Homo sapiens: one gene and its partners. The protein of the gene in region 1 interacts with the protein of each later gene in a pairwise test. Each region holds a gene or a part of one and is shown in the gene's direction. Other genes may lie near its edges.

Evidence for each region. Proteins that work in one complex are often made in the same cells at the same time.
Region 2: the proteins of PTPRJ (region 1) and BAAT interact in a two-hybrid assay, tested with the Homo sapiens proteins (one large-scale study listed by BioGRID and IntAct).
Region 3: the proteins of PTPRJ (region 1) and PRDM14 interact in a two-hybrid assay, tested with the Homo sapiens proteins (one large-scale study listed by BioGRID and IntAct).

Annotation. Positions count from the first base shown.
Region 1 is NC_000011.10:48,123,504-48,127,158, forward strand, and holds part of PTPRJ (receptor-type tyrosine-protein phosphatase eta isoform 1 precursor), read left to right. Parts: intron 1-109; coding exon 110-367; intron 368-1,464; coding exon 1,465-1,683; intron 1,684-3,655. UniProt on the Homo sapiens protein: Tyrosine phosphatase which dephosphorylates or contributes to the dephosphorylation of CTNND1, FLT3, PDGFRB, MET, KDR, LYN, SRC, MAPK1, MAPK3, EGFR, TJP1, OCLN, PIK3R1 and PIK3R2. Plays a role in cell adhesion, migration, proliferation and differentiation.
Region 2 is NC_000009.12:101,360,911-101,364,565, reverse strand, and holds part of BAAT (bile acid-CoA:amino acid N-acyltransferase), read left to right. Parts: intron 1-1,550; coding exon 1,551-2,138; 3' UTR 2,139-3,655. UniProt on the Homo sapiens protein: Catalyzes the amidation of bile acids (BAs) with the amino acids taurine and glycine. More than 95% of the BAs are N-acyl amidates with glycine and taurine.
Region 3 is NC_000008.11:70,061,157-70,064,811, reverse strand, and holds part of PRDM14 (PR domain zinc finger protein 14), read left to right. Parts: intron 1-3,655. UniProt on the Homo sapiens protein: Transcription factor that has both positive and negative roles on transcription. Required for the maintenance of embryonic stem cell identity and the reacquisition of pluripotency in somatic cells.

The DNA of each region.
Region 1 (3,655 bases):
TTTCTTTTTTTCTTTTAAAACCCGCTCCCAGCACTGAACCCCAGTCATTCTTAATGAAGGTGACTGCATATATCTTGTTCCATTAATGCATGTTGTATTTTTAAAATAGAGCCGATCCCAGTTTCTGATCTCCGTGTTGCCCTCACGGGTGTGAGGAAGGCTGCTCTCTCCTGGAGCAATGGCAATGGCACTGCCTCCTGCCGGGTTCTTCTTGAAAGCATTGGAAGCCATGAGGAGTTGACTCAAGACTCAAGACTTCAGGTCAATATCTCGGGCCTGAAGCCAGGGGTTCAATACAACATCAACCCGTATCTTCTACAATCAAATAAGACAAAGGGAGACCCCTTGGGCACAGAAGGTGGCTTGGGTGAGTTACAAAGGGTACCTTCCGTCTCCCTTACTGGTTCTTACTTTCAGTAACTAAATGTTCTAAAAAATAAATTGCTCTTCCATGTGTATGGAGATTTAGAATTTATAAAGGGCTTTTCCTCCACATTTTAGTTTGATCCCCCACCTGCATGAGGAAGGAAGGAAACGTGTTCTGATTTTACAGGGGAACACATTGGGGCTGAGAACAGCAATAGGAATTGAAACTTTTTAGAGTCTGGCACCCAGGAAAGTTAGAGGCCCCTTTAGCTTTCTATCTAACAGCTGTGTCAACCCAAGTTGGGCCTTCAGAGGAACTTATCACGTCTGCTGGTTGATGTTGGCGTTGTCATTTGCAGGTTTCATAGCATTTGCAGAGGATCCCCAGGATAACTCCATGAGGAGGACAGGCACTTAATCTGCATTTTATACTTAAGAAAACAGAGCTACAGAGTGGGTGTCAGGATCCTTGCTTGCGAGTGACAGAAACCAGACTTTGGATAGCTCAGACAGAAGGAACAATTTATTGGCTCATGTGGATTTTCCTGCTAGCGGGAGGCCTTAGAGAAAGAGATGAGGCAATTCTCATCCCTCCCTCTTGCTTCTTTCTGTTCATCAGCTTCATTCTCAGAGCAGCTCCCTCTGCACACTTAAGGAGCCCAGCTGCTCCTGTTTCACACCCTGCAGCTGCCCCACCAGCCAGCTGCCCCACCAACCAGGGTCTGGTCCAGGGAAACGTGTCTTGAGTGGGGTCTGATTAGCAAAGTCTGCTTCACAGAGCTGTCCCTGGAAATCCATGCTGGGACAGGAGAAGATAACAACCCAAAGAAGGGAGAATGACCTGAAATAAGCAGAGTTTGAAAGAGAAGCACCAGATATCTGTGGTGCTACTGGAATAACAGTACAAATGGAGATGGAGCTATCAGGCCTTTTTATGGGGCTGCCTCTCTCTCTGGAGGAGGAAGGGAGCAGATATTGATGGAGCACCAACTGTGGCCACTGTCTGATGGCCATCTGATGGGGTTGGGGCTCCGAAGGAAAATGGGGGATGTGTCCCTCTTGTGGTTGATGTCTTTTTGTCTCCTGTGCTTGAAACAGATGCCAGCAATACAGAGAGAAGCCGGGCAGGGAGCCCCACCGCCCCTGTGCATGATGAGTCCCTCGTGGGACCTGTGGACCCATCCTCCGGCCAGCAGTCCCGAGACACGGAAGTCCTGCTTGTCGGGTTAGAGCCTGGCACCCGATACAATGCCACCGTTTATTCCCAAGCAGCGAATGGCACAGAAGGACAGCCCCAGGCCATAGAGTTCAGGACAAGTAGGTTGAACTTTGTAAAATGGTGGCAGCCAGAGTTTCCTAGCACAATGTTCTGTCTCCTGTGATTCTGATTCTGAGTGATTTCTTGCATAACAGCTAGTTTTGATGTCAGAGGGAGCTTCCTGGAGGAGATTTTGGACAGAGCAGATCTGCTCAGTTTCTTCTTAACTCCATGGGCAGTGCACATCTCTCATTAAGTGAAATCAAATACATGGAGCAGCCCCTGTGTGCGGGCACCAGGCACTGCCTCACGCCATCTTTCACAGCTTTGCGTGGTGGCTGATGAGACAAACTGGCATCATACTTTCCTCTTAAAAACAAATAATCATTGCTTGTTTTTCCTTTGCTTTGAGTTAAGAAAGTTATGAAAGTGAGTTTCATTTTTTCACCCGCCTTGTAATTCATACCGATCTTTCTGTTGAAATGCTTGTTGACATGCACATTGCTGCTTCCTCGCTATAATTTATCAGCACTTTCACTCTGTAAGTTCACCAATATTTGGAGGCTTTGGTGAAAAGAGCGGGAGGTGAACACATTTGGGAATACTTAGAGGTAGTTACTGGCCAGGCTGTGTTACTTGTACAGGGCTAGAAGTTTTGGCAAGACATTGGTGAGAAGCCATTCTGTAAGGAATGACAGTTTTTCCTGGTATCCATGTTGAAGGAGGGTCCATTTGTGTCCTTCCTTCCCTTTGTACTTGTTTTGCTAATGTGGGAGTGGGTGGGGAGGATGCGGCCGTAGGACAGGCTGCCTGACCTCATGGGGCCTGCAGTGACCTGGCAGGAGTGGCAGGTGGGAGGCTCTCGGGTGAGGAGGGCTTGGATTCCAGAGGGTGGGTTAGTTGGAGGAGGAGGAAGGGGCTCCTATGTGGGTGCGGTTGGCAGTGGTGGGGTGTCCTGCACATGGTAAGCTTGCGTGAGAGAGTGAAAGGGGCTGAAATCTGGTCTGTGTGCCCTGCGTCAAGCCATGCACCCAGGGCTGGGTCCAGCCAGGGGAAGGTCCCTTTGACTGATTTGCTAAAAGGACTTGTAGATTTGTGTGGGCCTGGGGTCCCTGCTTTTTAAAGCAGTTTGAGCAAAAGCAAAGTAGTAGTGATTACATCTCAGGCTCTTGGTGGTGTGAATTCACACACATCCTGCTTTGGGTTGAACTGTCTTCATGCTTGGTAAATAATCATTATAGTAGCCTTTCCCTCTCTATAAGGGGCGAGTGTGTGTGTATAGATAAGTCTTAGTCAGTTTGGGCTGCTGTAACAAATGGCCATGCACTAGATGGCGTAAACAATGAACATTTATTTCTCAGGGTTCTGGAGGCTGGAAGTCTGAGACTGGGGTGCAGCATGCCTGGGCTCCGGGTGAAACACCCTCTTCCTCTTCCAGGTTGCAGACTCCCTGGGTCTTCACGTGGTTGAAGGGGTGAGGGCGTGGTTTCTCTCCAGCCTTTTTGATAAGGGCACTAATACCATTCAGGAGGGAGGTAATTCATGATCTAATTACCTCCCAAAAGCCCCGCCTCCTAAAAGCATCACATCAGGGGTTACAATTTCAACATAGGAATTTTATGGGGACAGAAACATTCAGTCTGTTGCAACACACACACACACACACACACACACACACACACACACACACACAGATAAACACACATTTCCACCCACCCCAGAGCACCCTGCACTTTTCAAGTGACTAGTTAGGTGGGGCAGGGTTAAGGAAACCATCAGAGGACATTGTTGAGGCACCCAAGACACGACAGAAAGCCACCTCTAGGGCTGAAGGGCTAGAGGAGGACAGGGTGTTTCTGGAGCCCAGTGAGAGCTGGGGCAGTGGTGGACACAGCTGTGTCAGGACAGGAGGCCCAGAGCAGGAGGTGATGGAGGAAGGCACTGACTCCTTTCTCCTGTGGCCCTTCAGGGGCCTGCCCATTGGCTCATAGTGGAACCCGGTCACAGCCCATGTGGCAAGACCCCCCATGA
Region 2 (3,655 bases), on another chromosome or scaffold:
TACATTAGGAATGTTTTGGCTACATTTCTCAGAAAAGTGGCTGATGGTGGCTTAAACATCAGCATAAGGTATCTTATTCTCTTACATAACAGGTTTGGTGATAGGTGGTTCAAACTTTGGCTTAGAAACTCAGTGTAGTTTTCAATCAAGGAGATTAGATTGACATTTCTGCAATTTTCTAGCCTTACTCTGAAGGTCACAAAATGACTCTGGCAGTTTCAGGAATTAAGTCAACAGGCCAGCATCCTAGTCTGAAAAGAATGATCATAAACATAGGCTTTCTCTTCATGATTCTGTGTCAGTTTGCACGGGGGGCAAAAAAAGTCCTTAGGTAGAATATGTTGGCCTTGGAAGAGAGGCTGAGAAAGGGAAATAGATTAGGATCCATCAGAATTTATCCCTTGGGGCTGGATATATTGCTATGCCACACAAAATCAAGGTCATATTAGCTTTGAAATTGTGGAGAATGGCTCCTGTGTAGGCAACTAACAGAGTCTGCTATACTCAGCATAGAATACCATTCCTTCTTGTTGACTTTCTTGTAATTTTTATTTCTTGAGACAGGGTCTCACTCTATTGCCCAGGCTGGGGTACAATAGCACAATCATAGCTCACTAAAGCCTTGAACTCCTGGGCTCAAGTGATCCTTCCACCTCAACCTGAGTAGCTGGGCCTACAGGCACACACCGCCATATTCAACTAATTTTTTAGTTTTGTAGAGATAGGGTCTCACTATGTTAACCAGGCTTGGCTTTCATTTTTTAATACGAAGACTCATTTGTTTTGTAGCCCATTTCCTCTGAGAGCCTTTCTTTGATCCTGCCTTTATTCCCTGCTAATCTGGGTTGGCAGTCTAGCCTACATACATTCTCATATCATAGAATTTATGATGCTCCAATCATCTGGTGTGTTTTTTTTTTTCCTCCTGTGTCTTCATCTGGCAGTGAGTTCCTTAATGACAAGAGATTGTTCCTTTTCTCTCTGTGACTCCCAGTGCTTGCCGTAGGATAGATAATTTAAGGATGCTTATTTGATGACTGACAATGAGGGAGGAAGCTGAGCCAAGCCTCCTTTATGACATTTTTCTCCACAATGAGAAAACTTTTGGAAAAAACAAAGCAAATCTAGAATCCTCTGTTCAACTCTATCCTACTGATCTCACTTTCTTTCTCAGTCTCTTCCTACAAGGTGCCCTTTCCTCTGAAGGGAGGAAAGTGTACCAATCATCTATACCCTGACCCACATTATTCACAATAGTCATGTGCCATTTCTTACTTTCCCTGCGACATTTGCATTTCTTTAGGGCATTTTAAACTCAGAACCTAACACAATACTGAATCCGTAATATATAGTCGGTAAAGCTTGACATATTTTTGGAGTATTTCTTTTGAATACATATTATATATTCCAGAACTCTATAGCTAGGGATGTGGGTAGGATTAATACTTGCTTTGTTCTCATTAGCCAGTGAAGTTCTTTGGTTGTTTGAGATTGTGGAGTTTTCCTAAATGAAGGCTAGAATAATTTCTCATTTCTATTATTTTTTTCAGGTCTTTGGCTCAGGCGTTGGGGTAGTCTCTGTATGTCAAGGAGTACAGATTGGACTATCTATGGCTATTTACCTAAAGCAAGTCACAGCCACGGTACTTATTAATGGGACCAACTTTCCTTTTGGCATTCCACAGGTATATCATGGTCAGATCCATCAGCCCCTTCCCCATTCTGCACAATTAATATCCACCAATGCCTTGGGGTTACTAGAGCTCTATCGCACTTTTGAGACAACTCAAGTTGGGGCCAGTCAATATTTGTTTCCTATTGAAGAGGCCCAGGGGCAATTCCTCTTCATTGTAGGAGAAGGTGATAAGACTATCAACAGCAAAGCACACGCTGAACAAGCCATAGGACAGCTGAAGAGACATGGGAAGAACAACTGGACCCTGCTATCTTACCCTGGGGCAGGCCACCTGATAGAACCTCCCTATTCTCCTCTGTGCTGTGCCTCAACGACCCACGATTTGAGGTTACACTGGGGAGGAGAGGTGATCCCACACGCAGCTGCACAGGAACATGCTTGGAAGGAGATCCAGAGATTTCTCAGGAAGCACCTCATTCCAGATGTGACCAGTCAACTCTAAGAAGACTAGATATTCCTAGAAAATAAAGAAGCAAATCTCTTTACCGGGACCTTCTCTCAATTTTCATGGCGGAATGTCTCCCCCAGCTGCCACACACACATTTTGTATTAATTTTAATGATTAAAAAGAGCATAGGGTAAAAACCTGATATTTCACTTATACTGCATAACAAGCTAACCAAACTGGACATGGTGAATAAATCATAAAACAAATCATTTTACTTATTATTTACATGACTTTTCTTTCCATCAGGTCTTCTAAATAGGACTGAGGTATAGTACACTGGCAAAAATAAGAAAAGGCAAACAAGAATAGCACCAAAGTAACAGATATAAAACCAAATACCATGTCAGAAAACACTATATAGTAAGAATTTATCAGATTAGAGCAGCAGGAGAAAATTAATACTAAATTATAATCATTTTAGTGATATTTTTCAACTTCACCACAGTAACTTTGCAACATCATTTTTCATTTGTGGGGTAGTAAAATTCATGTCAAAAAGGAAAGAAGGAATGGAGGAGGTCAGTTAGTTCATTGCAATAAATTACCTCTTCAGTTCTTAAAAACATGCCCATTGGCACATAACTGAGACATAATAACTAAGACTGGAAGAGCCTTGGTTTAAGTTATGAAGCAAATTAAAATGGAAAATACAAGAAAATAGAACCAATTAGGTTGAAAATGCCCCTTACTGAAAATCTGTATTAAAAATAAAATTAATAAAAGTAAAAAATAAAAATAGAAACACAACTCTACTAGTACAGGCTAGCCTGGGGAGTTTGATAAACTGAGTGATTGGGTCAACTATCACTGTACTTCCATAATGAATTTCTTCAGTCATGTTAGAGTAGCACATGAATGTGAGCTCTATAAGGACAGGTACTATATTTCCGTAAGACCCAATAGTTACTGTACATCCCATAAATAAAAAATACTTTAGTTTGCTAACCAACTGAATATATGAGGACTGCATGTAATTCAACCACATGGTTGTTTGCTGTACAGTCCTTTGCAAATATTAAAAAATTTTTTTTGCTATAAGGCTTTGATCATATAGTCCTCATAGCAACATAACTACCATCTAGCATGTACCACATTTTGCAAGACTTTAAGTTCAACATTCCAAACTGCCAATTTGTATTATGTCCAAATGCAGTATCCTTGAGGAATATAGTGGGTCAGTTAAATATCTAGAGACATACAAACATCTGCTAATTCATCTCATTGAGATGGATCATTCTGATCTCCATCATCCACCCACTTTTCATCAGCTTCTCCTACTTCATTCTCCTCATAGTCTTTATCATGAGGGATTCTGTATCCTGTCTCTCATCTACACTTGCTGGCCTTCCTGGTTGTGATTTATTGGAACAGTCTACACAAAAACCATAGGGTCAAGATCCATGTCTTACTCCAACACTGGCTGCTAACATGATCTTACATACCATACATTTGCATTTTTATCCTTCTTGTGCACCAAGAAATGTTTTCTTACATGTTTTCTCCAAGTGTAA
Region 3 (3,655 bases), on another chromosome or scaffold:
TGGCCCACGCCTGTAATCCCAGCACTTTGGGAGGTGAGGCGGGCGGATCACGAGGTCAGGAGATCATAGCCATCCTGGCTAACACGGTGAAACCTCTTCTCTACTAAAAATACAAAAAAATTAGCCGGGCGTGGTGGCGGGCCCCTGTAGTCCCAGCTACTTGGGAGGCTGAGGCAGGAGAATGGCGTGAACCCAGCAGGGGGAGCTTGCAGTGAGCTGAGATTGCGCCACTGCACACCAGCCTGGGCGACAGAGCGAGATTCCGTTTCAAAAAAAAAAAAAAAAAAAGTAAATTGCATCTGCATGCCTGTTTTCCTGCTAGGCTGAGATGCTTCAGGGCAGGAAATAACCCTAAACACTTTAGTATCTCGTGCTTCTGGATCCCAGTGCGTACTGACTGAGAGGAAGACATTAGAACTAAGCTAGAAAAAGCTGCTTAGGGATGAGATGAAATAAGGCACGTGTAAGAGGGAGAGAGGGAAGGCAATCAGGCTCAGGGAACAGTGAAGCAGAAGGCAAGGAAATGTCCAGAAATTAGGGGGTAAATAATAAGCAGTCATTATTTATCTAATGATAAATAATGAGCAGTCAGCCGTCATTATTTATCTAATGATAAATAATGGTCCCAATGATGAGGGGCTGTCAGGATTGTTTTGGTGAACTATCTTCCTACTCCCCCAGGTATCTTATGTCCATGCTGGGTTCCCCCCGCCACTGAACCATCATAAGCCCTCATTCTGTTGCTTGTTCTGATCGCCTCTGATATCTGCATACAGGTTGAGTATCCTTTTTCTGAAATGCCTGGGACCAGAAGTGTTTTGGTGGGTGGTGTGGGTGTGGGAATGTAGGTGAAGATAGGAATGGAGGCAAAAATGGTTGGGATTCTCTATGATCTGTGGAGCTCTAAGTTGTCTCCTACTTAGCACCAAACCAAGACCTGTTGGTCACTTCCTGAAATGTACCAACTCCTTTCGAAATAAAAGTCAACAGGCTGGGCGTGGTGGCTCACACCTGTAACCCCAACACTTTGGGAGGCCAAGGTGGTTGGGTCACCTGAGGTCAGGAGTTCACGACCAGCCTGGCCAACATGGTGAAACTCCGTCTCTACTAAAATACAAAAAATTAGCTGGGTGTGGTGGTGCATGCCTGTAATCCCAGCTACTCAGGAGGCTGAGACAGGAGAATCGCTTGAACCCAGGAGCAGAGGTTGCAGTGAGCTGAGATGGCGCCACTGCACTCCAGCCTGGGTGACAGAGTGAGACTCCATCTCAAAAAGAAAAATGAAAGAAAGAAAAGTGAACAATGGATTTGAGAAAAGTATCTGCTTAGTAACTGGCAAGATGGTTATTATCCTTTTGAGAAATCATTATTATTTTTTGAGATAGGGTCTCACTCTGTCACCCAGACTGGAGTACAGTAGTGTAATCTAGGCTCACTGCAACCTCTGCCTCCAGGGTTCAGGCATTTCTCCTGCCTCAGCCTCCCGAGTAGCTGGGATTACAGGCATGCACCACCACACCCAGCTAATTTTTGTATTTTTAGTAGAGATGGGGTTTCGCCATTTTGGCCAGGCTGGTCTTGAACTCCTGGACTCAAGTGATCCACCCACCTTGGCCTCCCTAAATTCTGGGATAACAGGCATGAGACACCATGGCCGGCCATTTTTGAGAAATTTTTTCACCGTATGTATCAAATTATTACAATGTTTGTAACTTTGATGTCTCAGTAATACTCTTCTGGAAATCTATTATCGAGAAATAGTCCAAAAGGAAAAAGCTATGCTTATGAAAATTTTTAACTGTGGCACCACTCTTGTGAGTGAAAAATCACAAACAACCTAAATGTTCAGTAGTATAATAATTAAGTAAATGATGATACAGGCTCAGCAGCTCCAATCAAGAAATCCCAAATCCAAAATGCTCTAAAATCTGAAACTGAGCACTGACATATTGCCAAAAGTGGGAATTTCCACACACCAGTACTTGACACAAACTTTGTTTCATGCACAAAATTATTTAAAATATTGTGTAAAATTACCTTCAGGTGGGCCAGGCACGGTGGCTCATGCCTGTAATCCCAGCGCTTTGGGAGGCCGAGGCAGGCAGATCACCTGAGATCAGGAGTTTGAGAACAGCATGACAAACATGGTGGAACCCCGTCTCTACTAAAAATACAAACAAATTAGCTGGGCATGGTGGCAGATGCCTGTAATCTCAGCTACTCAGGAGGCTGGAGCCGGATAATCGCTTGAAACCGGGGGCGGAGGTTGCAGACCGAGCAAGATTCCGTCTCAAAAAAAAAAAAATTACCTTCAGGCTATGTGTATAAAGTATGTATAAAACAAAACATAAATGGACTTTATATTTAGACTTTGGTTCCATCCCCAAGATACCTCATTATGTATATGAAATATTCCAAAGTTCGAAAAAAACCTGAAATCCAAAACACTTCTGGTCCCAAGCATTTCAGAAAAAGGATACTCAACCTATTTGTTATTAACATGGAATAGTATGCCGATATCAGAGGCAATCAGAGCAAGCAACAGAATGAGGGCTTATGATGGTTAAGTGCAGGGGATACCCAGCATGCAGATAAGATACTTGTGTTCCAGTTCTGAACCAAGTGATACCTGATGCTTACAGCATTATTATGAGGACATATATTTTGGACAATGGAGGGAAACTTGTAAACAACTTAATTTGTTGGGAATAATTATAAATGAATGTTAATTTGTTAATCTGTTAATATGAATGGTTTGGATGTGATAAAAAGGAAAGAAAAATTAAAATTCCATTGCATTCTCAAATGAGTTTTTTTCCCCAAAGGCTTTTTGGTGGGGATTGGTGGTAGGTGGGAGCCTTCCTCTTTAAGGTCTTGAGTGGTGAGGGAAGGGTCTAGACTCTATGTGGGCGGGTTATTTGAATATGCAAGCATTCCCCTCTTGTGAGGGAGAGAGGGAATTTGGGTGTGTGTTTTGGGGTGTGGAGGTGTGAAGAGCTAGGGGGAGGGAGGATAGGGAACAAGATAAAATTAGGAAGGATAGGGAACAAGATGAAATTAGGTTTCATTTCTACCTAAGTGGTTGTTCTTAAGCGAACTCAGTATTGAAACTTTATTCTGAATTTTGGTGTGCTTTAGTGCTTAGGTTTGTAAAATTGCTGACCCTCTCTTCCCTTCCCACCCCAGGAAGCAGGAAGGCCAGGTATTTCTGACCAATAAAAATTCTACCTCTGTGCCAAAAAAGTGTCCCAGCACGGGGATTCTGAGAGTATTAGCACCTCAATGAAAGTGATAGACAGAGCAGGGCGATGGATCAGCTTGGGGCTGGCAGTTGCCTTCCTGGTTATTTACTTAATGAATAGTTTATTTCCTTAGCCACCTGTTAAACGTGCCTGGGATGTAGTTGTCAACTAACAAAGCCCCTGATGGACAGCTTCCCTGCTGTCCTGATGCTGAGAAGATTTCTATCTGCAGACTCTTGCATAGACTCACTCTTGGCTGCTCTTCCTCCCTGGGGTCAAACAATGAGATCTCTGTGGTGCATTCATAGTCAAAGCCACTTTATCCTCTGGGATCCAGAGTGTCCTCTGCAGGGATGCTTTTGTAGGTGGCCCCTGTTCTCTCGCCTTCCCCCAACACATAGACACCCCTGGAC